2 linked regions of the Homo sapiens genome follow. The protein of the gene in region 2 purifies or fractionates together with the protein of the main gene of each other region. This does not show direct contact. Each region holds a gene or a part of one and is shown on either strand. Other genes may lie near its edges.

What was found. Proteins that work in one complex are often made in the same cells at the same time.
Region 1: the proteins of NLRP7 (region 2) and CAT purify together in Homo sapiens (affinity purification with mass spectrometry, with the first as the bait; one study listed by BioGRID). This does not show direct contact.

The regions. Positions count from the first base shown.
Region 1 is NC_000011.10:34,437,798-34,441,733, reverse strand, and holds the start of CAT (catalase), read right to left. Parts: upstream 2,801-3,936; 5' UTR 2,721-2,800; coding exon 2,655-2,720; intron 1-2,654. UniProt on the Homo sapiens protein: Catalyzes the degradation of hydrogen peroxide (H(2)O(2)) generated by peroxisomal oxidases to water and oxygen, thereby protecting cells from the toxic effects of hydrogen peroxide.
Region 2 is NC_000019.10:54,927,031-54,930,530, forward strand, and holds part of NLRP7 (NACHT, LRR and PYD domains-containing protein 7), read right to left. Parts: coding exon 3,469-3,500; intron 746-3,468; coding exon 575-745; intron 1-574. UniProt on the Homo sapiens protein: Inhibits CASP1/caspase-1-dependent IL1B secretion.

The DNA of each region.
Region 1 (3,936 bases), on a different chromosome or scaffold from region 2:
CAGCCTCCACACCCCAAGCTCAAGCAATCCTCCCAACTCAACTTCCCGAGTAGCTGGGACTACAGGCATGTGTCACCATGTCTGGCTACTTCTTTTATTTGTTGTAGAGATGGGTTTTCACCATGTTGCTTAGGCTGGTCTCAACTCCTGAGCTCAAACTATCCTCCCACCTCAGCCTCCAAAAGTGGTAGGGTTATAGGCATAAGCCTTCATGCCCAGCCACAGCAGCTTTACTTACAATAGAAAAAAAATTAAATAGCCCAGGTGTCCAGCAACAGGATATCCAAATGGTGGTATATTCAAATAATGGAATCTTACTCAGCAATGAAAAGAACAAACTGCTAATACATGAAACAACTTGAATGAATTAAAGGATGGACAGACAGATGGAGTAACGTAATAAAAGACACAGGGCAAAATGTTCCTTGTAGAATCTAGATGGCAGATATATAGATATACACTGCAAAATTTTTTCAACTTTTCTGAATATTTGAAATTTTTCATTTAAAAAAAGTGTTTGAAAATTATATAGGCTATAAGGCATATGCATAATTCCTTTTGGAGGGCCCTGGGTGGAGGGAGAAGTGCCTAAAAGAAGTAAGCGGTTTTTACTAAGAGCAGCTAAAACTGAGGAACAGTAAGACATCAATGTGACTGCCAATCAGGACGATGTACACAGTGCCCTGAGATGTCATGGACAAAGGGGATGGCTGTATTTCAATTAAGAGCCTCCCAACTATAGATGTGTTTTGGAGTCAGCCATTTCTCACATGGGCAACTATGTAAGGTAAATCAACAGCAGGGACTTCAACAGTTCATGATTCTCCCAAACAAGGAAGAAGGCAGCTAGTCTCAGAATAAAGGGGAGTCCTTTAAAAATGAAAATATTACACCTGTAATCTCGGTACTTTGGGAGGCCAAGGCGGGCAGATCTCCTGAGGTCAGGAGTTCCAGTCCAGCCTGGCCAACATGGTGAAACCCCATCTCTACTAAAAATACAAAAATTAGCTGGGTGTGGTGGTGGACACCTGTAATCCCAGCTACTCGGGAGGCTGAGGCAGGAGAATTGCTTGAATCCGGGAGGCGGAGTTTGCAGTGAGTGGAGATCATACCACTGCACTCCAGCCTGGGCAACAGAGCAAGACTCCGTCTCAAAAAAAAAAAAAGAAAAGAAAAGAAAAAGAAAAAGAAAATATTTTGTTTTGTAAAAATCTCACTACTTTGTCCACACTTTTCTCAATTCACCGAGTATTCATGAAAACTTCAGTGTGAACCAGGATTTGCACCCACTGGGTAAGGAAAGAGTCTTGGGTCCAAGAAGCTGAATTCTAACCTTGTCTCTGCCACTAAGTAGTGGCACATCCTTTACTAAGACTCTACCTCTCTCTGGTTTACTTTAAGAGCTCATGAACCAACCTAATGGTATATAACAAAGAACAGGGCCAAGAGGGGAGATTTTCCAGGCCCTTGGAGGAGAATGGCAGCCTTTTCCCAAACAGGGAACCATTAAAGCAATCCATGAGCACTTAGCATTAATACCCCAGTTCACGAACCTGAGTTTTGAGCAAGAGCACTAGGCAGAATAGGGAAAACAGGGCTGCAGTCCTCTGTCTACCATTAACCAGCAGCCAGGGAACAGGGCAAGACCTTTAGACTCCCTGGGCCAATCTGCCAACAGTAGACTCAGACCAGATGTGGTCTCATCTAATCCAACCTCCTCATAGATGCCCTCTGAGACTCTGCAGCCGTGGGCACAGGCCAGGAATGCCTCCCCCACCACCAAGTTAAAATCCTACTCATTTAAAAAAATTCCTGTTCAAATGTCACCTGCTTTGTCCGGCCCACCTGGTCACTCCCTCTACATTCTACAGATAACCTCTATTAGAGCCCTCACCACGCTGGAGTGTAATCATCTGTTTATGTGTCTCGTCTCCCAGACTAGACTCTCAGCTTCTCAAGGGTGTTGTTCTTGCCGCACTGGAATTTGTACACCTTGCCCCGAACAGTGCCTAGCACCTACAGGTGCTCAAAGAATAGAATAAACGCATTAATCAATCCCTAATGTCACCCCCCAGCTCTAAAATGCTAGGCTTGACATTTTGAAGTGCAAATGAGACAATGAATGTAAAAGTTCTTTTATTTAGTCGTTTAATAATGTGCATAGTACGTACCAGTCACTGTGACTGGTGCTGGAGACCTCAAGATTGTAAAACACAATCCCTGCCCTGCTGGGACCCCACAACTATGAAAGCGTGTAAACAGTATTTCAAGAAGGGCACCATTAGAGCCTGGTTCCACTTCTCCCCTCACTGACTTCCTTGCAGCTGCAGCTCTCTGCCTCTTTCCCCATGAGCCCTCAATCTGTCCTCAAGCTGCGACCTCTGTCCCAGTTGGCAAAAGTGCAAAATTCTGAAGCAACCACCCGAGCCTGTCGCGGACAACAAAGCCTGCAGTCCCGCGCCCCACTACCCGGACCCCCCTCCCCTGCTTCGGCGAATGTAAAAGTCCGTCTGCACCGAAGGGGATCCCCCCTGCCCAGTGAGCCGCGGTACAGTCCCTCCAAGCGCCGCCCCGGGGGAAGCCGGGCCTTTACTTGCCGACGCCCCCGCTTTCTAAACGGACCTTCGGGCCCGCTCGGGGAGCACAGAGTGTACCTGCGCGGCCCGCTGCTCCTTCCAGTGCTGCATCTGGTCGCTGGCGGGATCCCGGCTGTCAGCCATAGCGTGCGGTTTGCTGTGCAGAACACTGCAGGAGGCCTCGGCTCGTGGGTCTCCACCCTCAGCAGGCAAATCTGCCTGTTGCCCCGAGTCCGTGGCGACTTCAGGCTCAGCCAATCAGCACCACCCCCTCGTCCCGCCCCCTCGGGAGGACTGCCTTCTGATTGGCTGCTCGGCGCTAGGCAGGCCAAGATTGGAAGCCCAATGGGCTCGGAGCAGGGCTCTCCGAAGGAGGCCTGAAGACCGGAGATACCCAGGAGGGTGCGGAAAGGAAGGGTCCCGCTCTGGCCCAGCAATTGGAGAGCCTCGCCCCGCCGGCCCGGGGTGCCCGGGATAGCCGAACCCAGGGCGGGGCTCCCGGTTATCAGCATCCTTCAGGCCGCCCTGGGACGCGGCCGTTGGTGGCCTGCCAGTTTTGCAGACGGAATACTTAGACCCTGCTGGGTGGGGCCTTGCGCTCCATAGCTATGCTTTCTCAGCTCTTAAAAAGTCAGCAATCCTGGGTTAAATTACTCTGTACAAAATTAAATTTTGCCATACGCTAATGTAAGTATTATTTGCAACCAAAGGATGGATGGATGCTTTTCTTTTTCTTTCTTAGCTCTTCTTAACTTATTCGTGGATTATCACTTACTAGACTAGTATACTAATTATTTAATATAAAAACACTCTGAAACGTTTATCTCCGTACAGATGGGTGTTGATTTCCTCCTTTACCAGAGAAAAACAACTTAACTTAGATGGGAAAAATGTATTCCCTTGTGATGGGAAAAATGTATTCAACTCTGGTACACTGCCAAATTGGCTTCTTTAAACACTGGAGAAATCTGCTTCCCCAAATTTTACCCCCAGGTAAGCAGGAATTTTGAAAAGCTTTGTGTCTTTAAAAAGCTATGTTGAAGAGTAAAATACTTAGTAATATATAGTACAATATTTAGTAAGTTACTGACTAGTTTGTCATTGTAATCAAAGAGTTTGAATGATTTCTACACCTCCTCAGGTGCTAGGATTTATCTTTAAGCACCTTAATATATATACATAGTATATACCATCATCTTCAAATTAAAAGTTATCAGCTTTTAATTTTTTCCAGTACAACTACATATAATGGGTGGATATATAATAGTGGAAACTTCACATGTTGTTCTTGATCTTACAAAAGTATGATAAGAATCTTGGGCATAAAAGTGGAACTTTAGCAGTTCATTGGAAAAGAAAG
Region 2 (3,500 bases):
AGTGAGTCAAGATCGCGCCACTGCACTCCAGCCTGGGCAACAGTGAGACTCCATCCCAAAAAGCAAAAACCAAAAAGGCCGGGTGCAATGGCTCACCTCTGTAATCCCACCACTTTGGGAGGCCGAGGCAGGTGGCTCACCTGAGGTCAGGAGTTCAAGACTAGCCTGGCCAACATGGTGAAACCCCTCTCTACTAAAAAATTAGCCAGGCATGGTGGCAGGCATCTGTAATTCCAGCTACTTGGGAGGCCAAGGTGGGAGAATCGCTTGAACCCAGGAGGTGGGGGTTGCAGTGAGCCAAGATCGCACCACTGCACTCCAGCCTGGGCTACAAGAACAAAACTCCGTCTCAAAAAAAAAAAAAGAAAAAGAAAAAAATTAGCTGGACATGTTGGCATGCCTCTAGGCCCAGCTACTCATGAGGCTGAGGCAGGAGAATTGCTTGAACCTGAGAGGCAGAGGTTGCGGTGAGCCAAGATTGCGCCACTGCACTCCAGCCTGAATGACAGAGCACGACTCCATCTCAAAAAAACAAAAACAAAAAACAAAACAAAACAAAACAAAAAACCCATACCTGAGTATCTTCAAGGATCCAGTTCTTTGTCTTAGAACCCCAAAGAGCTTAATTATGCCACTCTTCCACAAATGATTCTGGCCCAGGTCCAGAGTTTCAAGCTTCTGATTGCTGAGGAGAGCAGATCCAAGATGCTGACAATAGAAAGGCATGAGGGAGCAGCTCCAGAGGCTGTTGAGGAAGAACATGGAAATCCACGCATTCACTGAGCAGGTAGTGGCTCAAGCGTGTAATCCCAACACTTCGGGAGGCCAAGGCGGGTGGATCACTTGAGGCCAGGTGTTCGAGACCAGCCTTGCCAACACGGTCAAACCCCATCTCTACTAAAAATACAAAGATTAGGCAGGGCGTGGGGACAGACACCTGTAGCCCCAGCACCTTGGGAGGCCGAGGAGGGTAGATCACCTGAGGTCAGGAGTTCGAGACCAGCCAGGCCAACATGGCAAAACCCCATCTCTACAAAAAATTAGCCATGCATGGTGGTGTGTGCCTTTAATGCTAGCTACTTGGGAGGCTGAGGCACAAGAATCGCTTCAGCCTGGGAGGCGGAGGTTACAGTGAGCCCAGATTGCGCCACTGCACTCCAGCCTGGGCAATAGAATGAGACTCCATCTCACAAATATATAACATAAAATGAAAATACAAAAATTAGCCAGGTATGGTGGAACCACCTATAATTCCAGCTACTCGAGAGGCAGGAGAATCGCCTGAACCAGGAGGCAGAGGTTGTAGTTAGCCAACATATCACCACTGCATTCCAGCTTGGGTGAAAGAGTGAGACTTGGTCTCAAACAAAACAAAACAAAAAAACAAGCAGCATATTTGCTGGGGCTCCAGTAGTGAGGAAAGGCAGAGGGGAGTGAGCAGAAGAAATCCTTGTCCTCAGAGTTTTTAGTGACAGCAGACATCTCGATATGTTCTATTGAAGACAATGGATGATGGTATTAAAATAAACAGGGTAGAGGTAAGTCAAACAGAGAGGCATTGATTGGCTAGACTTATGCTGGTCATTTAAGTCCTCTTTTGGAAAGTGATATGAGGAAAGAAACTGAAGGATGGTAGATCATGAACCAGCATGCTAACTGGGGGAGGGAATCTTGTAAATAAAATACTGAGCTAGTGAGAAAGTAGAATGATTTATGGCTCATAACTTACACGAGGATCCCCCATAAGGCCCTGTAGGCCACTGTAGAAGCCTTTGGTTTTGTTTTTTTTAAGGCAGAGTTTCACTCTTGTTGCCAAGGCTGGAGTGCAATGGCGTGATCTCGGCTCACTGCAACCTCCGCCTCCTGGGTTCAAGCGATTCTCCTGCCCCAGCCTCCCGAGAATCTAGGATTACAGTCATAGCTGAGATTACAGGAACAAGACACCAGGTAATCCACCCGTTTGCATTGAGCTTTTGAGTCTTTGGAAATAAAGGTATCACGGTCTGGCTTGAGGCTTGAAATATTCCTCAGGGGGATGGGTTAAGAAACTTCAGGAGGCCAGGAATGGTGGCTCATGCCTGTAATCCCAGCACTTTGGGAGGTTGAGGCAGGTGGATCACTTGAGGTCAGGAGTTTGAGACCAGTCTGGCTAACATGGTGAAACCTGGTCTCTACTAAAAATACAAAAATTAGCTGGGTATGGTGGTGCACGCCTGTAATCCCAACTACTCAGCTCAATCAGGAGAATCGCTTGAACCTTGGAGGCTGAGGTTGCAGTGAGCCAAGATCGCACCACTGCACTCCAGCCTGGGTGACAAAGCGAGACTCTGTCTGAAAAAAGAAAAAAAGTACCCTGTGTTCTAGTGTTTTTTTTCTTTACTCTACAGCAAAGCTAAGTAGTAATGACGTGCAGATTCTCTTTGCATTAGGATTGCAGATTCTAGTTGGAAAATAGGTTGCATCCAAGAGATGCAACTGACAAACTTTGGGGAGAGAAGTGATGAAGAGCTCGCCATTCCATTTGTGGAGACTTTGCATTTTCTGGGGGTGGTATCCCACCTATGGTTCCCTGGGTTTATGAGGTGGGGCAGGCTCACTGCTTCCTGATTACTGGATCCCAGCAGAAGCAGCATGCTGCTGAAGTCCAGGTCACTGGGGGCCATTGTTATATATATTTCACTTCTCCAGGCCCTCTACCTGACTTTAGAAGTGCCCACCCACATATATTCAGTTTCTGGAGGGGTTTGATCTTAAAACTGGATCCGAAGTGATACAGTCTGAGATATTGAAAACATAGAAATTGGCCGGGCGTGGTGGCTCACGCCTGTAATCCCAGCACTTTGGAAGGCCAAGGCGGGCAGATCATGAGGTCAGGAGATCGAGACCATCCTGGCTAACACTGTGAAACCCATCTCTACTAAAAATACAAAAAAAATTAGCCAGGCACGGTGGCGGGCATCTGTAGTCCCAGCTACTCAGGAGGCTGAGGCAGGAGAATAGCGAGAACCCGGGAGGAAGAGGTTGCAGTAAGCCGAGATCGCGCCACTGCACTCCAGCCTGGGCAACTAGAACGAGGCTCCGTCTCAAAAAAAAAAAAAAAAAAAGAAAACATAGAAATTAAGGATTTCCAGATTTCCAAACACTTTAAAAATGAGGCCAGGCATGATGGCTCATGCCTGTAATCCTAGCACATTGGGAGGCCGAGGTGGGAGGATTCCTTGAGCACCAGAATTCAAAACCAGCCCGGGAAAGATGACAAGACCTCATCTCTACAGAAAACAGTTACCTGGCCATGGTAATACATGCCTGTAGAGCCAGCTACTCAGGAGGCTGAGGTGGGAGAACCGATCAAGCCTGGAAGACCGAAGCCGCAGTGAGCCGTAATCACCCCACTGCACTCCAGGCTGGGGGACAGAGCAAGACCCTGTCTCAAAAAAAGAAAGAAAGAAGAAAAAGAAAATCGCCTACCGTAGGTGTTTTAGGTTACAGTTTGGATTCTC